Homo sapiens: one gene and its partners. The protein of the gene in region 4 purifies or fractionates together with the protein of the main gene of each other region. This does not show direct contact. Each region holds a gene or a part of one and is shown on either strand. Other genes may lie near its edges. The genes, in order: RBM25, NPAT, RPS6KC1, VPS39, NME8 and XPO6.

What was found.
Region 1: the proteins of VPS39 (region 4) and RBM25 purify together in Homo sapiens (affinity purification with mass spectrometry; one large-scale study listed by BioGRID and IntAct). This does not show direct contact.
Region 2: the proteins of VPS39 (region 4) and NPAT purify together in Homo sapiens (affinity purification with mass spectrometry; one large-scale study listed by BioGRID and IntAct). This does not show direct contact.
Region 3: the proteins of VPS39 (region 4) and RPS6KC1 purify together in Homo sapiens (affinity purification with mass spectrometry; one large-scale study listed by BioGRID and IntAct). This does not show direct contact.
Region 5: the proteins of VPS39 (region 4) and NME8 purify together in Homo sapiens (affinity purification with mass spectrometry; one large-scale study listed by BioGRID and IntAct). This does not show direct contact.
Region 6: the proteins of VPS39 (region 4) and XPO6 fractionate together in Homo sapiens (co-fractionation; one large-scale study listed by BioGRID). This does not show direct contact.

The regions. Positions count from the first base shown.
Region 1 is NC_000014.9:73,100,034-73,103,533, forward strand, and holds part of RBM25 (RNA-binding protein 25), read left to right. Parts: intron 1-3,158; coding exon 3,159-3,445; intron 3,446-3,500. UniProt on the Homo sapiens protein: RNA-binding protein that acts as a regulator of alternative pre-mRNA splicing. Involved in apoptotic cell death through the regulation of the apoptotic factor BCL2L1 isoform expression.
Region 2 is NC_000011.10:108,184,639-108,188,138, reverse strand, and holds part of NPAT (protein NPAT), read left to right. Parts: coding exon 1-41; intron 42-1,569; coding exon 1,570-1,657; intron 1,658-2,644; coding exon 2,645-2,736; intron 2,737-2,819; coding exon 2,820-2,907; intron 2,908-3,500. UniProt on the Homo sapiens protein: Required for progression through the G1 and S phases of the cell cycle and for S phase entry. Activates transcription of the histone H2A, histone H2B, histone H3 and histone H4 genes in conjunction with MIZF.
Region 3 is NC_000001.11:213,049,746-213,054,040, reverse strand, and holds the start of RPS6KC1 (ribosomal protein S6 kinase delta-1), read right to left. Parts: upstream 2,801-4,295; 5' UTR 2,637-2,800; coding exon 2,532-2,636; intron 1-2,531. UniProt on the Homo sapiens protein: May be involved in transmitting sphingosine-1 phosphate (SPP)-mediated signaling into the cell. Plays a role in the recruitment of PRDX3 to early endosomes.
Region 4 is NC_000015.10:42,166,805-42,170,304, reverse strand, and holds part of VPS39 (vam6/Vps39-like protein), read left to right. Parts: intron 1-438; coding exon 439-581; intron 582-2,767; coding exon 2,768-2,911; intron 2,912-3,391; coding exon 3,392-3,500. UniProt on the Homo sapiens protein: Regulator of TGF-beta/activin signaling, inhibiting SMAD3- and activating SMAD2-dependent transcription.
Region 5 is NC_000007.14:37,893,597-37,897,096, forward strand, and holds part of NME8 (thioredoxin domain-containing protein 3), read left to right. Parts: intron 1-869; coding exon 870-1,014; intron 1,015-3,273; coding exon 3,274-3,496; 3' UTR 3,497-3,500. UniProt on the Homo sapiens protein: Probably required during the final stages of sperm tail maturation in the testis and/or epididymis, where extensive disulfide bonding of fibrous sheath (FS) proteins occurs.
Region 6 is NC_000016.10:28,205,466-28,208,965, forward strand, and holds part of XPO6 (exportin-6), read right to left. Parts: intron 1-3,500. UniProt on the Homo sapiens protein: Mediates the nuclear export of actin and profilin-actin complexes in somatic cells.

The DNA of each region.
Region 1 (3,500 bases), on a different chromosome or scaffold from region 4:
TCAGACTTAAATTAGATTCAGGGGGCAGCAGGATAACATACACTGTAGTGTATTTCTGGGGGCAGTTATTTAACTTGATCTTAGGAATACCTTTTCTTTAGAGCTGAGATTAAAATTTACATTTTATATTTGTATAGATTTAAGTTGAGTGGGGGAGATTTTAAACAGTAGGTCAGTGGTTACCAGACTTACCAAATTTTAGATGCATGGAAGAACTGTAAATTCCCATAAAGCTAATCTATTCATTGACCCCCACCATTATGATAGAGATCATATGGTGACTAATGCAAGATGAAACTCTCAGCTTGGAAAGTAACAAGGAATAGGATGTAAGTATGAGCTTCTGTTTTTTATTATATTTATGGATGCCCCCTCAGAAAAATATGCAAAGGGGTAACTGGCTTGGAAATGGGTATTTATGCATAGTAAATCCCACTCACGAGTTTTGCCTATTTGAAGCTTCTCTCAATGACAGTGCATCTGTGAATGTTCGCTGGTGTTGAAAATGATGCTTTTGAACGGTGCAATGCAAACACTGCATGAAATGTATTTTGATGGTCGAGATAATAAGGTGTTGCTGGTTCTTACTGATAGACTGAGAGATCTTTAACTCAGTGAAATGTTAAATGTTCATTTTCTCTTTTATTCTTACTTTTTCCCATTGCTTTCAAAATCTGCAGTTCACAAATAATGCCAATGAATCAGTGCTGCTGAACACTTACTATCCAGATGCCCAGCCCTTGCTCACAAACACAATGCTTTTTCAAGAATTAAATGTGTCTAAGAGCACAAACATAATTCTCCCAAAATTAATTTTGAGAGTTGAAAAGGTGGTCTATGGGAAATCATTTTAGATGAATAATTTTGGTTAGGTATAATACTGAAATTCAGGACCGAGTAAGCTTAAAAATGGTATATGGTTGTGTGTGTGGTTTACCCCCTTTTTGTTTTTATTTATTTGTTAAACCCTGTCATGTTATTGGTAAATTATGAGGAAATCATGTTTTAAGAAAAATTCAAAAATATATTTGCTTTAAAGTTTGGGAATCTGTTAGGCATTTTACTGCCTTAGTATTATTTCACTGGAGGGAATGTTTTGAATTTTCAGAATGTCTTTTCAAAATAAAAAGAAATCAAAATGAAAAACCAAAACAGTTGTTTTTTATTGGGTGGTTTGGCTAAAAGGGTTGTTTGAAACTCCAGTAACAAAAAATGAGCTCAGTGAACCTTTGCATGTTTTGGTATGAGTTTATTAAATAACCACAGACTGTCAGGGTATCAGCGTGGCAGGGGGCGTCCATTTACAGCACGGATGAGTCTGAAGAGAGAATAAGGTAAGATTTATGATTTTTTAATCTGTCCTTTCCTCTTCATGACTTTCTTACATAATTTTAGACTCACCTCATTTCCCTTCTCCAGTCTTTCTTTAAAAATATACATGTATGTTTACATGTATACCTGTATTTGTATACATGTGTGTATATATATATATATATATATCTCATATATAAACTTCAGGAAACATTTAGTATGGACTAGATTCACTCACTTTTTCATTTACTTAGAACCAAACTTTTGAAATGAGTTCTGAAACAAATGGTTATTTATATAACTGAATATAAGGAGCACAGTGAAATAAGCAAGAATTAAAAATTGAGGAATTCTACAGGAAAAATTAGTATTGGAACAGCTAAAATATTCTGTAAGTATCTATTTCAGAAATAAACAAATTTCTTTATAAGTGTATGCCATTGAGGTAAGTTTTATATAGTCTAGCCTCATTTTACAATATAAATTTTTATATTCATTGGAACTGTTTCAGAAATGAGATTTTTCCCCCTTTAATAGCTGTTAGTTTCTGTCCTCTTTCTATCATATCTTATTTCATCCCTTTGTAATTTCAATGTATTCAGTTTTGACTTTGCCCGTATTCTACTTCGATATAGACTGGCACAGCAACTGAATATATTGCTCATACATTAGCTTTCCTTTCATAACCTGCTATAAGTTCTCTGATCCATGAGGAAGAGAAAAAGAGTATCTGACAGGTAAGATTGCTTTTTAAAGTTGTTTTAAATGCATTACATGACTGAGAAAAGAAAAATGCACATTTTATTGTTGCAGTTTAAAATTTCATTTTGGTGAAACTAAACGTGAAACAAAAGGGATAAATGTGTTTTGTTTTGTTTTGTTTTACCTGTTTGGGGTATTTTTTTCTGAGTTTGTGTAGAAACCGTGTGGTACACTGGTAATCTTGTCAGGGTACAAACTTGGTCTGACTTTGTTATTTGGTTTATTTGTGAACCATGTACTTGCTCTTCCTCCCAGAAACATAGCTTGTAGGCAAGGTTAATCCAGTGTTGGCGATCCATGTCCTAGCACAGCATCTGTAAGTTAATGCACAATCGTTCCTTCCAAGGATGGATTTATCATTGTAAATATATTTTCATTGTCTTACAGGCATAATGGGCATAAGTATGTTGCTTTTAAATATTTTAAATTAAACTATTACAGTTACATATATTTTGCTTGAAGTGAGTGATTTTCAAACTTTTTGTATTTGGTGGGCTGTCCATCTTGTAATGGTGGGAGTAAATGTTTCCATAGATGATAAGGCAGTTCTTGGCTGAATTCAGCTTGTGTTTCTTTTGGAGGGTGGGCAAATCAGAGGGCAGAGATTATTTAGTTGCATTATAGGTATTCTTCTATACCACTTGCCCTTTGAAACCCTCAACTTGAGGTAATGTGCAGTCTGGGGTTTTAATTAGTATTAATAATCTTGTGGATTTACAGAAATCTATAATGCACAGAGTTGAGTTTTAACCAATGATCGTATTCATAGAAAATATTTCGAACCACCACATTCTTCATGGTCATTTTAGTTAGTACATAGTCATTGAGTGGCCAGCCACACCTGACACAATCTCCCAGCATCCAAGATTGGAGATTCCTGGTCTGTGTAGAGTATATGGTTTTGCACGAAATCTTTCTAGTCTTGTGATTGCTTCAGTTTAATTTGTCACATAAAACCACAAGTATTTAATATTAATGTATCAGTGGTTTGGTGTTTTTGTTCCCAGTACTGGGCTTTGCGCCGGGAAAAATCTGAATACTGGAGCTACAGAGTTAACTCTAAAAGTGCTTTTATTGGTTTCTAGAAACTGGAAGAAGAGAAAGGCAAAAAGGAAAAAGAAAGACAGGAAATTGAGAAAGAACGGAGAGAAAGAGAGAGGGAGCGTGAAAGGGAACGAGAAAGGCGAGAACGGGAACGAGAAAGGGAAAGAGAACGTGAACGAGAAAAGGAGAAAGAACGGGAGCGGGAACGAGAACGGGATAGGGACCGTGACCGGACAAAAGAGAGAGACCGAGATCGGGATCGAGAGAGAGATCGTGACCGGGATAGAGAAAGGAGCTCAGATCGTAATAAGGATCGCAGTCGATCAAGGTAAGGCTTTACAGAAGTTACTGTTTCCTGATAGCTTTAAGAAAACTATCGGGTA
Region 2 (3,500 bases), on a different chromosome or scaffold from region 4:
AAAGCACATGCCAGTTTAATGTCTCCCGGTAGACGCAAAAGGTAAATGCTTTTTAAAAGAGACAAGTTACCCGTATCCATTAAAAAAAAAAAAAAAGAATTACATCAGGATACTTACATTGTGAATAAACTAATAGGACCAGATTATGTTCTGATCTATATTAGAACTATTCCAAAATACATTGTCTTTCTTCACATTTTAACCTGCCTGAAATTGGGTTGCATCTCTCAATTAATGGCATATCACTGTTTCATGGGAAATATGTTTATTCTGTAATGGTATATAAAATAATGGTATATCTTACAAATGATGTTATCTGAGATTTTTTGCAATCCATGTTTTTTAACTGAATGTAAATAATACAGTTATGTTCTATGCTCCACACACATTTAAAGTCCTAAGATCAATTGATGGAATTTTTCCAGGCACAATCTTTGAGAAAAGTGTTTTTCCCAAAACACTTTTGAGAAAAGTGTGTCTTTGTTTGAAGGATATTTTTTGAAAGAGATAATAGTTTTAAAATGTTTATTCTAGTTTCTTAGCTCCCAAGCCCTGGGTATTTTTGTTAGAGTTTTTACTTTTGGTTGTCTTTCATTCAAGACTGACCTTAGTTAGCCTCCTTTATTGGAGCCTTTCTCACTTCACCATATAAAATAACAAACAGCAATATCCATTTTTTTATTTTTAGAGATAGGGCCTTGCTGTCTTGACCAGGTTAGAGTATAGTGGTACAATCATAACTCACTGCAGCCTCGAACTTGTGGGCTCAGAAGATCCTCCCACCTTAGCCTCCCCAGTAGCCAGCAGCACAGGCACATGCCGCCACACCCAGCTAATTTTTTTATTTTTTGTAGAGATGGGGGTCTCACTTTGTTGCCCAGGCTGGTCTGAAACTCCTGGCTTCAAGTGATCTTCCCACCTTGGCCTCCAAAATTGCTGGGATTACAGATGTGAGCCACCATGCCCAGCCATAAAAGAGCAACATTAATATTTAACATTTATAGGAACCCTGACTTTTTAAATAAAGTCTTTATATATACTTTATTTCATTCCATTCTTTAGTAAACCCAATAATGCAGTTGGTCATTATAAAGTAGGTTAGAGAGTCAGAGCTTGCTGTGCTTCAGACCATAGGTAGTAAGTGGTAAAGCTAGACTTCAAACTCATTTTTTTGAATTCAAGACTACTAATACTTTTTGTACTTCCCTTTGTTCCTAACACAAATAGAGAAAATATAGTTGACCTTGAATAACATGGGTTTCAACTGCATGGGTTCATTTATACTCAAGTTTTTTTCAACCGAACACAGATTAAAAATTTAGTAGTAAAACCTGCCTATATGCAGTGTGCTGACTTTTTGAATACATGGGCTTCCTAGTGCAGACTGTAGGACTTGAGTACATGTGGATTTTGATATCCTTGGGGGTCCTGAAACCAGCCCCCTGCAGATACAGGGACAACTGTATCTGTTCTGTTATGGTGATCTTAAAATTTATGTCTGTATATGTATTTATCTTTAAATCTGTTAAATATAGTGGTTAAAAGAAAAGCTTTTAAAATGTGTTTCAGTGAATCTCAGAGAAAAAGTACCACTTTGTCTGGCCCTCATTCAACAATACGGAATTTCCAAGATCCAAACGCTTTTGCAGTAGAAAAAGTAAGTGACTCTGCCAAACTTTGCAACTTAAAATATTCCTGAGTTTAAAAATACAGATATATACACAAATGTATGTATGTGTGTATGTATCAAATAAAGAAACAGGAGTAAGTTTATAGATATCTGTAAATACATTGTTGTTGTTGGATCATTTAATAAAATACTGGCCAGGTGCTATGGCAAACACCTGTAATCCCAGCACTTTGGGAAGCTGAGGTGGGCAGATTGCTTGAGCTCAGGAATTCAAGACCAACCTGGGCAACATGGTAAAACCCCCTCTCTACAAAAAATACAAATATTAGCTAGGTGTGGTAGCACGTGCCTGTAGTCCTAGCTGCTTGGGAGGCTGAGATGGGAGGACTGCTTGAGCCTGGGAGGTCAAGGCTGCAGTGAGCCATGATCATACCACTACACTCAAGCCTGGGTGACAGAGTCAGACCCTGTCTCAAAAAAAAAAACTGGCCGGCGAGTAGTGGCTTGTACCTGTAATCCCAGCACTTTGAGAGGCCAAAGCCAGCGGATCTCTTGAGGCCAGGAATTCAAGACCAGCCTGGACAACTGTCTCTACTAAAAATACAAAAATTAGCTGGGTGTGATGGCACACGCCCGTAATCCCAGCTACTATTCAGGAGGCTAAGGCACAAGAATTGCTTGAACTGCGAGGTGGAGGTTGCAGTGAACTGAGATTGTGCCACTGTACTCCAGGCTGGGCTATAGAGCGACACTGTAAAAATAGGGCATTTACTGGGGTTTGATGATGAGTGTGGAACTGTATAAGAAAGAGTTGGTGAAAGATCTGTGAAAACATTTGCAAATTATGAAGTGTTGTATTCAGGTATTAATATGGAGGGAGCCATCACAACTTCTGAGTTTCCATTTAGGTTTATTAAAACTATCCAGCTCTTATCGGTTTGTTCTTTTCTTATAAATATTAAATAGCAGAATACTCTTTATTGTCCTTTTGCTAACAGTGGCTTTCTTTTCCAGCAAATGGTTATTGAAAATGCACGAGAAAAAATACTAAGCAACAAATCTCTTCAAGAAAAGCTAGCAGAAAACATAAATAAATTTTTAACTAGGTAAGCTATATATGTTTAAAATGCCTAATTGTTTTTGCCTAATTGCATAACTATAATAAAGATTTTTCTTTCTTTATTAACAGTGATAACAATATTGCCCAAGTACCTAAGCAAACAGATAACAACCCTACGGAGCCAGAGACTTCAATTGATGAATTCCTAGGACTTCCGGTATGGGTGGTTGGGGTGTGCATGGGTGCGTGTGTGTTACTTATACTTAAGATTGATGGTAATTTTGGTTTCATTTCAAAACCATTGCCAACATAAGATGTTATGATTTGCCATCTAATTAGATAAAATGATTTACAATAGTAAGATAAAACTTTTCTTCATTCATTGAATGCAGTCTGTTCCTGAAAAACACATTGGATGATGACTTAAAATAGAATCTATATTGCATCCACAGTCATGGATTCCTAAGTATTCAATACTTAAACATTTATTAGTGGGTATATTTGTGTGTAATAAACAGTAATACAGTGTTTATATAAATTACATTTCTTCTACACTGCTACAAATTGTATAATAATTTAGAGAAACAATGAAATGATACAATAAAGATATGTAATGGGGCCAGGCATGGTGGCTCAATGCCTGTAATCCCAGCACTTTGGCAGGCCAAGGAGGGCAGATCACTTAAGGCCAGGAATTCGAGACCAGCTTGGCCAACATGGTGAAATCCCATCTCTACCAAAAATACAAAAATTATATGGGCATCATGACACATGCTTGTTATCCCAGCAGCTCGGGTGGCTGAAGCAGGA
Region 3 (4,295 bases), on a different chromosome or scaffold from region 4:
AACAAGGCGAAACCTCGTCTCTACAAAAAATAGACAAATTAGCCGGGTATGGTGGAGGGCGCCTGTAATCCCAGCTACTTGAGTGGCTGAGACAGGAGAATCACTTGAACCCAGGAGGCGAGGTTACTGTAAGCTGAGATAGCGCCACTGCACTCCAGCCTGGGCAAGAGAGCGAGACTACGCCTTGGAAAAAAAAAAAAAAAATTCTGAATTTGGTTAACCTTTCCTTTTGTAAAGTAACAATACAAATAATTATACTCAGTGCTTCCAATTCCAGTTCCACACACATTCATACCTCCAGGTCTTTATGGACTCTACCCCTTCAACTGTCTACCTTTTCATACCCTCTCCTTTTCTGGATTCTTCCCCTCTTTCAACTATCTTGATTGGTACATATTCCCCAATCTCTTGATCCAGAAGCAATCTGTCTTCCCACAGCCCTTTTCTGTAGTGTCTGCTGGAACTTCCTGTGTTATATCACACTTAAGTATACTAAACTCTCTTCTACTATGAGTATCCTTGAAAGGAATAAAGATCCCTGCTTTATTCAGCCTTATGTCCCTCAGTATTTAGTGCCTGGATCTAAACATTTATTGGGTGTGCTCCGTACAATGAAGAGGAAAACATTCAACAATGTTTTTCAGGCACTGTGTGCCATGCACATGCATGTTCTTTTATCTATTATTTGATATAAGCAGAAACAAATGCCAATGATAGAGAACTGCTCTAAATCCACTAAGAGACACAGACATGCAACTAAATTAATACAATATAACTTTCCTGTTAAATTAACGGATAAGTAGGATGCTGTGAGAGAAACATTACGTATGTTGAAAACTGTTCTGATTCCATACACTATGTGTTAGGAAACTAAGCCTAGATTTTCAAAGGGCCCAATGACTAGAAAGGTTTCAAGAGTGGTATAATAAGGGCCCCTCACTCTCACAAAATTTCTTACACAACCTGAAACTAACATTCCACCCATGTAACAACCTTAAGTGCAAGCAGGGAGCAACAAACATCCCTCTATTCTCCGAACAGCAATCGGCAATAGCAGGTCAGGTCTTCTCATTATCTTTATACAGACATGTTCATCTATCCCTCCTTCTCACATTTATCTGAATTGTGCACCATTTCCATACATCACGTGCCACTCCCATGCCCCAAACTGATCTATTTAACCTTTAAGATTCTTCTCAGGCTGGGTGTGGTGGCTCATGCCTGTAATCCCAGCACTTTGGGAGGCCGAGGCAGGCGGATCAACTGAGGTCAGGACTTCGAAATGAGCCTGAGCAACATGCAGAAACCCCATCTCTACTAAAAATACAAAAAATTATCAGGGCATGGTAGCACATGCCTGTAATCCCAGCTACTCGGGAGGCTGAGGTAGGAGAATCGCTTGAACTCAGGAGGCAGAGGTTGCGGTGAGCAGAGATCATGCCATTGCACTCCAGCCTGGGCAACAAGAGCGAAACTCCGTCTCAAAAAAAAAAAAATTATTCTGAAGGCCTGCTTTACATCCTCCAAATGTATATTGAACTACTGTTACTTAATCTGTACCTCTCTTCTTTAAAAATTGATAAAGTTAATTATTAACATTTTATATAACTTGGAGTTAGGCAAAACTGGTTTCAGATCCCAGACAGATCTGCTACTGCCTTGCAATGTAAAGTTGGGCAAGTTACTAAACTTGCTTTAATCTATTTCTTCCTCATTAAAATGAGAATTAAATTGGGTGATGTGCATAAAATGCCTACTATACACATATATTCATGCACACATACGTCACATACATATATACTTATTTAATTTTGATTTATTCTTACTTTCCTAGAAGATGCAGACTCTCTTTAAAACTCAAGGCAAAAGCAATGAAACATAAAGTGGGTACTAAAAATTGGACCAGTTAGTTGATGTAAAGGAGCCTCCCAACTTTAAAATGTGCCCTCATGGTAGCTCACACAAGCCACCCTCAGCAGATTTTTTTCACGTCTCCTACTGAAAAACATGAAAAACTCAAAGGTTTGACAAAGCCCGGATCCACAGTTCCTAGGTTGGTGGCCTAACACTGACATCTGTCCCAAGAATCTGTCTTTCTCACAGCAAACCTGATAAAGGTCAAGAGAAAAAACAACTTATATTACATAAGCCAAACAATACATAAATTAACACTTTTTAATCTGCATTATCTTCCTGGAGCAAGCAAAACCACTTCTGCAAATTGCGAACTCAGAAGAGAAAGTCCAAACGGGATGGGAACTGAGTCATCAATTTAAAACCATCAACCACTGACTGCCCCACCCCCAGAAAGAGGACTCTACCACGACCTACTACAGTGAAGCCCTGGGCATATCACACTCAGCCACTACTCTAAAAATCCCAACCTCCGACACCCAAGTCCCGCCAGTAGGAGCAGCACCCAGTCCCACCCTCGGCTCTGAGCCAGAGTCAGGTACCCTCACATCAGGGTCCCCACCCCAGATCCTCAGGTCCCAATCCAAGCTCTACCCCAGCCCGACACCGGCACTCACCCGGGCGGTGACCTTATATACTGTGTAGCCCCTCGGGTGTCGCTGGGGCTCGGTGACAGTGTAGAAACGGGCCAGGTCGGCACTCCGCTCCCGGTAAGAGGTCATCCTCCCGCCGCCTCTGCCGCCGCCGCCACCCGCCCGGGATCATGAGGGAAACCCGGCGCCGCCGCGGTCCAGGTTCCCCAACGCAGCGGCGAAGCGGCGAGGGGGCGGTGGCTCCAAGGCGGCTCCACGGCGGCGCCTCAGCTGCACAGCTCTGCTTCCGGGTCAGCAGAGAAGCTTCCGGGCCAGGCTATCTCCCGCTTCTAGGGGGAGGGGAGACTCCTCCTTAGATTCTAGCCCCTTTGGGGCACCTGGGACTGGCCTGTAGTTGAAGACTAAGGGGTCGCGCTGCCACCCCCGTCACTGCGGAGACCTCAGGCCTCTCCACTAAAGACGACCTCTTGTACGCTAGCTCCGTCACCTTTTATGAGATTTTATGAGAGTTGGTATAGCCACGCCACACCGGGAGAGCGTGGTCCTCCCTGCCTCCGCCCCGCCGTGGTACAAACTTAAGTGGAGTGTTGAAGGGATGGAGAGATACCATAGCCTAGCACCTTCTTTCCTTACCTATTCACAGCCTATCATTTTAAATACCCACAGCAACATCTCATTCTCTGAGACATATCCCTTACTTCTTTCTAAGACGAATTTCCTTCCATTGAGCGCCTTTCTGTAACACATCTGCACAGCAAGCCCCCAACCCAAAAAAGCTCCCAAGCCAATATCAATCTTTTAAAAATCCCCACAGGTTCGAAAATCTGGAGTCCGCCTCTGGCTAGAAGAAAGAAATATGTCACTCGACCTCTCCGAGTCACTCACTACAGTTTCCAATTTCAGCTGAGGTTGTTATCAACGCTTGGCAGTTCCTTTATCTTTTTGTGATCAAGGTTCCTTTTCATTCCACAAAATATTCATGCCAAGTCTTTGCCATTATCCTAAAGACTCTGTTCCTCTTCCTTTTGCCTCCCTACTCTCCGCACCACCACTCTTCTTTACAGGGAAAAAAGAAGAGGAAGAAGCAGCTATGGCCCTTAGTACCAATTCCTTTGTCTTCTCACATTTCCATGCCAGTCTGAAACGTACACATATCACTTGCTCATTTTTACAGCTAATGACTCCACATGTGATCTGAATCCCATCCTCTTTGGCAAACCTTAAGACACTGTTTCAATGACATTCCAAATCTCCTTTCTGTATGTTTAATCTCTTTCTCACCACTGGCTCCTTCTTTTCAACCTACATATATCTAAGTCTATTAGTCATTCATTAAACCTGAATTCACCACCTACTATGTGCCAGACATGATGCCAATTTGGCATTGGAGTTACAAAGATAGTCCCTGTTCTCCGACCGGGCGCGGTGGCTCACGCCTGTAATCCCAACACTTTGGGAGGCCGAGGCGGGCGGATTACCTCAGGTCAGGAGTTCGAGACCAGCCTGGCCAACATGGTGAAACCCCGTCTCTACTAAAAATACAAAAAATTAGCCAGGCGTGGTGGCAGGCGCCTGCAATCCCAGCTACTTGGGAGGCTGAGGCAAAAGAGTCGTTTGAACCCGGGAGGTGGAGGTTTCGGTGAGCCAAGATCGCACCATTGCACTTCAGCCTGGGGGACAAGAGCAAGACTTCTCTCAAAAAAAAAAAAAAAAAAAAAAAGGTAGATAGTCCCTGTTCTCAAGTACCATCTAGTAGGAAAAATAAAGACACAAAATATACTGTGATAA
Region 4 (3,500 bases):
ATCAACAAATTAGCCTCTTGCCATATATACTACAAATATATTCCCTAGCCTGTTGTCTTTTTTTTTAGTAATGTTTCTTTTTTTGACTTAAATTTTTTATTGTTGAGTCTCTTGATCTCTTCTACTTCAATATCAGCATTTTTCCTTAGAAATTTTTTATTCTCTACTTTCAGAGGCTTGATAAATATTCAATTCTAATTATGTGTGTGTATTTGAATATAGTCAGGCATTTTTGTGATGTTTTAGTGAATTTTAACATATGTATAAAAAGTGCTCAAATCATAAGTCTACAGCTCGTTGAATGTTTATGAACTGAGAGTCTTTTTTTTTTTTTTAAATCAGTCTGGAACTTATTTTGCTATAGTAATAGTCCTGTTTTATTTTATCCCTAAATTGTTGGGCTCCTTTCCAGAGGAATCATGTTTACCTTCCATATAGATCCCACCCATGTGATGGGCCTGTACCCTGACCTGCTGCCCACAGACTACAGAAAGCAGTTGCAGTATCCCAACCCATTGCCTGTGCTCTCCGGGGCTGAATTGGAGAAGGCTCACTTAGCTCTGATTGACTACCTGACACAGGTAGGTATAGTACAGAGTGCGTGAAAGAGTTTGCCTGGGAGTTTCAGTACTTGTTTCTTTGTGGCAAGGAATTGAGGGCCTTCTCTAATGCCAAGGCAGTCTGTAAATTAATGCTGTAGGAAGTCTGCCTGGGGTAAAGTTTCTTTCTGCTACTTCTAACTTTACAGTACCATTGAGGTGGGGTTTTCTGCCAAATCTTGATAAAAATAAACACACCCAATTCCTAGTAAATTCACACAAAGCTGTTATAGAAACTAAAAAAAGTAAATTTTAGTTGATAGAAGCATACAAGTTTTTTTAAAACAAACTTTTTGTAATATACATGGTTTTGGGGAAAATGCCTCCTGTATGTGGAACCACTTGGAAAACACACACAAAAAAGTACAAAGCAGAAATACAAATTACCTATAACTCTACCACCAGAATGTAAGAAACTAACATTTTAGTGTTGTCCTTCTAGACTTGTATATCTATGAATTAGCTTTTGTTTATTTACTTCTTGGTTTATTTATTGCAAATGGATATCAAATTGTAGATTGTTTTATAGCTTAACTTTTTAAAAATTTAGCCATATACTGAGAAAGTACTTCCTTATCAATAAATGTCCTTATATAACATGTTTTTTAGGGAGGTATTTAGATTTAAAATTTTTTATGATTTACTGTTATAGACAGATACATTTTTTAAGTCAGCACTAAAGCCAGCATCTCCATTAAAGTCTCTTAACCCTAGATTTCTGTCACAGAAGGCTATTGTTTATTTCCTGTGTACCCATTCAGAATCAGAGACCTTATTGATATTTTTTCCTCTTAAGTGTTTTGCAGATCTTTGTAAGAGGTCTCCAGAATGCTCTAGGGTAGGCACTGAGAAGTATTGCTGTTGGCCGGGTGTGGTGGGTCATGCCCGTAATCCCAGCACTTTGGGAGGCTGAGACAGAAGATCACCTGAGGTCAGGAGTTCGAAACCAGCCTGGCCAACATGGCAAAACCCAGTCTCTACTAAAAATACAAAAATTAGCTGGGTGTGGTGGCCCACGCCTGTAATCCCAGCTATTCAGGAGGCTGAGGCAGGAGAATTGCTTGAACTCAGGAGGCAGAGGTGGAAGTGAGCCGAGATTGCGCCACTACACTTCAGCCTGGGCAACAGAGTGAGACTCTGTCTCAAAAAAAAAAAAAAAAAAGAAGAAGTATTGCTGGAAAAATTGTCATGCCACTTTCCACTCCCTGCCTCTGGGTCAGTGAGTCCCTGCAGGTCTGATCAGGCATGGGTGGCCTTGGCCCTTCCTTGACATTGGGCTCCAGGGGTACCCTCCTGGGGCTGGCAGCCTGCAAGGAGCACACAAACTTGCCACTGCCTACACACTGCACACACTGTGCTAAGTAAAAAAGATTCCTGGGCATACTATCTCCCAAAGCCAGTGGCATTGTGGAAGGCCCTCCACTGCCAATGTCTTAGCTGTAGGAAGGTGAGCACACGTCCTTCCCTGGCCTTCTTCACTGACAATGGGAATGTGTGAAGTAACTGACACTAGTATTGTGCCAGAGAGATGGCAGAGCAAGACCATGGGCTCTGCCAGACTCAAGAGAATACATACTGGATGAAGTTCTAGGATAGGCAGAAACTCATCTCCAGGGATCAAAAGCAGATCAGTAGGTGGGATTGTTTGGGAATAGCACGAGGAACTTTCTGGAGTGATAGAAATGTTATCTTCCTTCACTGAGGTGGTTACATGCATGTACACATCTGTCAAAATGTATCTGATGGTACACTTTAAAAGATTAGATTTTATTGTAAGTTATACCTCAATAAGGTTGATTTTTAAAAAAATAAAAGAACATGGGCTTTGGAGTCAGCCCCCAGTGTGAATCCTGCCCTACCCCTTATGTAGCAGCTGACACCTGTGCCTTGGGTTCCTCACCTGTAAAATAAGGATAATATTATCGGCACTTGTTTTAGGTTTAAGATGGTATATATAAAGTGCTTGGCATGGTGCCTGGTCTGTAGTAAATATTCAATAAATAATTGTTGTTGTCTCTGTGGCAATTTGGCAGTGCTAAAAATCGAATGCTAATGTGAGATCAGGCCAATAGGCATGAGCTGATTGGAGGTATTCAGAATTACCCAGTAGCTCAGATGACAAAGGAAGACTTAGTCCTGGCCTTAACCCCACATTTTGACCTTTGCAGAAACGAAGTCAATTGGTAAAGAAGCTGAATGACTCTGATCACCAGTCAAGCACCTCACCGCTCATGGAAGGCACTCCCACCATCAAATCCAAGAAGAAGCTGCTACAAATCATCGACACCACCCTGCTCAAGTGCTATCTCCATGTGAGTTACCTGAGCGCTCGGGTGCCACAATTCCCAGTTACCCTGACAGTCTGGGAAAGTAAAAGGGAGTGCTAGACCCTGAGGGACCTGCCATTAGTAAGAGTGAAGTCTTTGATTCTGGAAACCATATAGACTTCTCCTGATGTCTGTGAGTCTCTTGGAATTAAGAGGATAGGGCAAGATATCAATGCACAATTGTACAGTGGATTCATCTTCTCTGGTCGGATTGCAGTTAGTGCTACAAAGTCAGCTGGGACAGTATTTCCTTCAAGAAATGTTCTCCCCCACAGAACATTAAAACACATTGTGCGAAGGTCCATAAATGCTCTAAAAGCCTCTACCTGCTGTCCTGAAAGAGGGCTGTCTGCTTTCTCTTGCTTGTGCTACATTCCTGGCCTTTCAGCCTAGAGCAGGCCTGGGCCAGGGAAGGGTGGGGCTCCCCAGGAAGCAGTTTCCACTGAACTCCTGCTCTTTCTGCAGACAAATGTGGCCCTGGTGGCCCCCTTGCTACGCCTGGAGAACAATCACTGCCACATCGAGGAGAGCGAGCACGTGCTAAAGAAGGCTCACAAGTACAGTGAGCTTATCA
Region 5 (3,500 bases), on a different chromosome or scaffold from region 4:
TACCATGCTTAACACAAAGGTCAGTGTCTCTGTGAAGTCATCCCTGACCTCTCCAGAGAAAGTTAATTGTTTTCTCACCTGTGGTTCTGGGGACCTTATATATTACTCTATAATAATGATCACTTTCTCATGATATCTTTATAGGCCTTGCTCTCTGTTGAGACAGTCTCTGAGGAAAGGTTTATGTTTTCTTCCCTTTCATTTCTGCAGTGCCTGTCTTAGGGCAGATCCTGGCCACCTCCCTTCCAGCAGGAGAGGTCCAGCCTTCTCCAGGCTGTCTGTTGGTTATAATCATATTGCCTTTAGCTCCCAGACCACTCTATGTGCTTTTGATCTGGAGCAAAGAAGAGGCCGTTTTACCAGAAAGCTCCCAGTTTCTCAGTTGGTTCACCTTTGTCTCTAGAATGTAGCCCTCAAAACTTAGGCTGTTGGTGAGATTTTGACAACATTTGCTTTGTTTAATTCCCTCGATGGTACTCTGATTCTTCAGGGAGAAGAGTTCAGATTGGCTTTATCCTTCAATCCATATCTAGCAAGAAATTCCTTGGCATTTGTAGTATGAAGGTGAAAATAGATCTTTATTCTTAGCATGAGAGCAGGTCCCTTCCCCTTCTACTCTTGTGGCCTACTAGGTGTTTCAGGTGGTTTCTGGAAAGGTGAGCCTCAGAGACTGAAAATCTACATTAACATACTGAAGTTCTGAATGTCAATTTGGTGCTTTGGAATTTTAATTTCGTTTGGCAGAGTTTTGCCATGTTAAACCACAATATGCAAATTAAACTATCATTTTCCTTAGTTATTTCAGTCTACTTGAGTATGGAGGAAAAGTGAAGCAATCTGCAATATTATCAAATATTTGTTTTTCTTAGAGCAGATCCTGAAGATAGTTAAGGAGGCTGGATTTGATCTGACACAGGTGAAGAAAATGTTCCTAACTCCTGAGCAAATAGAGAAAATTTATCCAAAAGTAACAGGAAAAGACTTTTATAAAGATTTATTGGAAATGTTATCTGTGTAAGTTTCTGATACATAATTGTTTGCATTATAAAAGTGGTAAATGTTCATTATAGAAACTTTGAAAAATGCAAAAATTAATTAAAACATTTCATCTAATCTCATTCATGAAAAGACATTCTGCTAACATTCATGGTTCATCTTTTTTCTATTTCCTTACCTCCCTCCCTATCTTCTTTTCTCTCTCTCATTCTGTCTCTCCTCGCTCCCTTTCTTTCATTCTTTCTTCCTTCCTACTTTCCTTTCTCCCTTTCCTTCCCTTCCCTTCCCTTTCCTTTCCTTTCTTTTCCTTTCCTTTCCTTCCTTCCTTCCTGTTTCTCTAGGTCTTCACATTAGATATAGAGGCTGCCTCAGTTCAAACCGCTGCTTCGCCAACATACTTAATTGTTGCCTGAGTTTCCTTATCTGTTGAATGGGAATAATAATAGTATCTATCTAATAGGCTTGTTGGCAGGGCTACATAATTGATGTGTTGAAAGTACCTAGAACAGTGCATGACAGATATTAAACACTTGATAAATGTTAGCTATGATTATTCACATCTTTTTTTACATGTGTTGATACCTTGTCAAACTATGTATACATAATAACATAAATATTACGATAAGAAATACACTCTTTTAAAACTTCTTTCTACATGATGCATCTGTTCCTGACAACACATACTTTTATAACCACCACATAGAAATTACAGGCTAACATTTATTGTTTCCTTAATTCCAGGCCTTGTGATGAGCTGTACACACTTTATTTCATTTGACTCTTATAATAATAACTCTGTGAAGTAGTTTTACTAGAATTTCCACTTTGATTTTGAGAGAACATAGGACCAGGGCTAGAAGTTGTCCGCAGTCACAAAACTAGTGTTTCGCTGGGTCCTGAACCCAGGGAGTCTCTGCTTTTAACTGCTGCTTTCCAAAACTCTCTTTTACACAGAGTTCATAATTATGTGAACATCATTATCGATTTACTATGAGTTACATGTCTTTTCTATTTTATATATATTACACATCAAAAATTTTCTATACAGTCATGCTTTGCAGTACAATATTTCAGTCAATAATGAATCACATGTACAGCAGTAGTCCCATAAGATTATCATGGAGCTGAAAAATTCCTATTGCCTTAGTGACATCGTGATCATTGTAATGCAATGCATTACCATTTGTGTTCATATATGTTTAGATACACAAATAACACTGTATTACAGTTGTCTACAGTATTCAGTATAGTAACATGCTATACAGGTTTATAGCCCAGGAGCCATAGGCTGAACCAGATAGCCTAGGTGTGTAAGAGGCTATTCTATCTAGGTTTCTGTAAGTATATTCTAGGATGTTTGCACTACAATGAAATAACCTAATGTCACATTTCTCAGAAAGTATCTGCATTATTAAGAGGTACATGACTGTACATACACACACACATGCACACACACACACGTGTGTATAAAATACGTATAAGAAACCTCTTTAATTGCATGTCTTCTCTTTTTTCAGTTCCTGACAATTTGTCAATGAGTTTAGGAAGGCAGAATTTATAAAGTTAACAAAATTTAATGGAATATATGTGCTATTGAGATATAAATAATAAGCAGAAGCCTAGGACTGTACCATGACAGCTTAGAAAACTAACTTTCATACTTATTGCAGGTTGCATTTTCTGGGAAGCTGGAAGTTTCTTGTTCAGGCTATTGAGTAATGATGCCATGAGGAAGACAGGGCAAAGAAGCAGGATGGGGATGACGGCAAGTCAAGATGTAGTGCAGACCAGACAACAGCCTCTGCTAACCACAGCTAGATTGGTCTATCAGAGTTGTCCAGTATTGGCTGAGATGACCAGGCTGTTGTATGCTCACATCACTCAGTTACTTGAAGTAGGCCATCCTGGCAATGAGGATGGCCTGAGCAAGGCTATCTTAACTTGAGGCAATCCCTGAAGCGGTTAGAGGCTGCTGGACAACCATAAAGCAACAAGTCTTGAATCCATGACAATGTCTCTATTTACAGACCTCAAAGTAGCAAAATAATAAGACTTCATTGACAAATATTCTCTAGAATTAAATTATAGCACCCACCTAGCATATAAACCTATTAGAAGAGGGAGAAATGAAAAAAAGAAAGTACATGATTGCACTGATAAGGACAAAGAATAAAAAGGAGCTCCCTGGCTCAGGCTGCAGTGTTCTGTCTTTAGCCTTGTTTGCAGTGTCAACAGTTTTCAGTAGGCTGGGTCTTCTGAAAGCACCGTTCTTTGCAGGGGTCCATCTATGGTCATGATTCTGACCAAGTGGAATGCTGTTGCAGAATGGAGACGATTGATGGGCCCAACAGACCCAGAAGAAGCAAAATTACTTTCCCCTGACTCCATCCGAGCCCAGTTTGGAATAAGTAAATTGAAAAACATTGTCCATGGAGCATCTAACGCCTATGAAGCAAAAGAGGTTGTTAATAGACTCTTTGAGGATCCTGAGGAAAACTAAAGTA
Region 6 (3,500 bases), on a different chromosome or scaffold from region 4:
TCTTCTCAGCCAATCTCTCTCAGGTCAGTACCTATGCAATCTTTGTACCAATGCCCCTTTGCACCAACACATTCTTCTACTATCACCTGTATCACAGTCTCTTGTATTTTCAGAGTATGTTGACTTATCTTCCCCACTAAACTGACTCCCAGAGGGCAGGGGCAGTATTAAATATTACCCTGGAAGTGTAACGGTTATGAGCAGTGACTCGCTGTGTGACCTTGGGAAGTTGCCTAACCTCTCAGTGCACTGAATGTCAGCTATAAAACATGAAATGAAAGCTGCCTTTAAGCCAGGCATGGTGGTTCACGCCTGTAATCCCAGCACTTCGGGAGGCCCAGACGGGTGGATCATGTGAGGTCAGGAGTTCAAGACCAGCCTGGCCAACATAGTGAAACCCCATCTCTACTAAAAATACAAAAATTATTCAGGCATGGTGGTGCGCACCTGTAGTCCCAGCTACTCGGGAGGCTGAGGCAGGAGAATCGCTTGAACCCAGGAGGTAGAGACTGCAGTGAGCTGAGATCACGCCACTGCACTCCAGCCTAGGCGACAGAGCAAGACTGTCTCAAAAAAAAAAAAAAAAAAACTGCCTCTACCTCCTAGAGTTGTTTGGGACAGTAAATGGGTTCATAGGTTCATAGATGTAAGATGCCTGGCATATAGAAAGCAATACACACACACACACACACACACACACACATATTAACTATTATATTGTTAGATTGTAACCACAGTACCTAGGGTTGTAAACTTCATAGCAGGAAGTCAATACATTATTTCATGATTATTTGGCCTGGTGTGGTGGCTCGCGCCTGTGATCCTAGCACTTTGGGAGGCTGAGGCAAGAGGACTGCTTGAGATCAGAAGTTCAAGACCAGGCTGGACAACATAGCAATCCCCACTCTCTACAAAAAATAAAAATAAAAAAATTAGCTGGGCATGGTGGCATGGGCCTGTAGTCTCAGCTACTGAGGAGGCTGAGGTGGGAGGATTGCCTTGAGACCAGGAGATCGAGGTCACTATGAGCTGTGACTGTGCTGCTGCGCCCCAGCCTGGACAACAGAGCAAGACCCTGTCTCAAAAAATAAATAAATATATAATAAATATAAAAACCAATAACAAAAACTCTGGCTTAATCTACCTATTTCTTTATACTACATTAATTTTGCTGACCACATTTTGGTTTTATCAGGTGATTTGAACCATATCATATACTAATTTTTTCAGAAGCTATTCAAGTCATTTCTTGACAGGTAACTTTTTCTCCAGACTTTCTCTAATGCTGTGACTGACATACAAAACCTCTGGGTACTGCTGAACCTTTCCCTGCCATCTCCCTGCACCCCCATGTCTTCTTTGTACCTCTGAGAGCATGGGGTACAATGCAATGCTGTGGATGAACAAGTGGATGACATGCCATGTGAGTGGCTAAATTTCAGTTCTGATTCTGCCTCCATTACAGGGGCCACTCACGGTAACTGATATTAAAAAAATAAGGCTAGGTGTGGTGGCTCCCACCTGTAATCCTAGCACTTTGGGAGGCCAAGGTGGGCAGATCATCTGAGGTCTGGAGTTCGAGACCAGCCTGACCAACGTGGTGAAACCCCATCTCTACTAAAAAACACAAAAATTAGCCGGGTATGGTGGTGGGTGCCTGTAATCTCAGCTACTCAGGAGGCTGAGGCAGGAGAATTGCTTGAACCTGGGAGGCAGAGGTTGCAGTAAGCCAAGATCGTACCACTGCACTCCAGCCTGGGTGCAAAAGCAAGATGCCATCTCAAAAAAAAAAAAGGAAAGAAAGAAAGAAAGAAAACAAACCTTAGCAGGCAATTCAATTTCTAAGCAACTAAAAAAGAAATGCTAATATAAGCAAAAACTCAATTTTGCACACAATTTTCATATTAAGCAACAGCTCGCTCAATACTAAGTAATAATTTCTCAGCAAAGTAGTGGGAACCTCTAACATGTCACACCACTTAAGAATCCATGGGAATGCAACAAAAAATGATTTAATCAAATACAGTTATAGTATGCTAGCTCTTCCTGTAATTCTATACTGCAACTATAAATCTTTTTAAACTGGTTCTAAATGTGAAGGTCAACAGGGATAGTGTAAACAAAATTCCCCATACTCCCTATGCTCCACCACTATCTATCTCTAAGCCAAACAACATACAGGTGGAAGACTCTCCTGATCTTCCTTCCCATGAGGCAGCACCCAAAGAGCACAGGCTCCGGAGTACAGCACTTTGGGTCTAAATGCCAACTCCACCACTTGTCAACTAGGAATCACAGAGCAGGTCTGTCCATCTCCCGCTCTGGCAGGAACAGCCATAGTGGAACCTAGCAGAGTTGGTGGGGTTTACTGATACTGAATGACTAAGAGAAAAACTTGGCCAGGCGCAGTGGCTCACGCCTATAATACCAGAACTTTGGGAGGCCAAGGCGAGTGGATCACCTGAGGTCAGGAGTTCGAGACCAGCCTGGCCAACCTGGTGAAACCCCATTTCTACTAAAAATACAAAACAAAAAAAAAAACTAGCTGGGCGTGCCTGTAATCCCAGCTACTCAGGAGGCTGAGGCTGGAGAATCATTTGAATCCAGGAGGCAGAGGTTGCAGTGATCCAAGATCATGCCACTACACTCCAGCCTGGGTGACAGAGCGAGACTCCGTCTCAAAAAAAAGAAAGAAAAAACAAGTAATGAGTGAAGAATAGCTAGCACATCAAAGATGCTTAATAAGTGGTAGTTTTTATCACATTACGCCACTTTCAAGTCTTATTAGAGTTGAAGATTTAAAAAGAAGATGTTAAAAGGGCTCAAACTTATGCCAACTAATACCCTTAAAAGTAAAAATGTTAAGTCAGCAAGAAATGGAGAGGAAATAATTTCCTGGAATAAAGAGCTGGGATCCCAGGGAAAAGACCCTCCGCCTGTAAGACACCAGCCAGGCAACAGTTTCCTTACCTTTGGGGGACAGGGCCTACCCTACCCAAGCCCCTGACCCTGGGATACCTACAGATGAACCACTGTGTCAGTGACACAAAAAGGACAATCCTATTCACATCAACTATGGCCACCCCCTGTGTACTTAAATAACTGAGGTCTAGGTGACAAAAACTTTGACTTGCAACGTACCTCAGAAAAAATGCACATGGAGTTCATGAAGCCAACTACTTTACAATTCATTACTCAAAGGTGGTCATTCCCATGATGCTCTACTGACTGCCAATTAAAATGAAACCTCAATACAAGGGTGCTGGGCTAGCTCAGTCAATAACAAAATTCTGTCCAAGGGTCCTAAAGCAATGCTGTAAGTTTCCCAAGGGGAGGAATGTGTGTCTTGTTCATCTGTACATGCCCTAGGCCCTGGTATATGGTGGTGGCTACTGAAAATTCACTTGTAAGATTTGTACACCCATATTCACAGCAGTATTATTCACAATAGCCAAAGGGTGGAAGCAACCCAGGTATCCACCGAAGGATGAAAGGATATA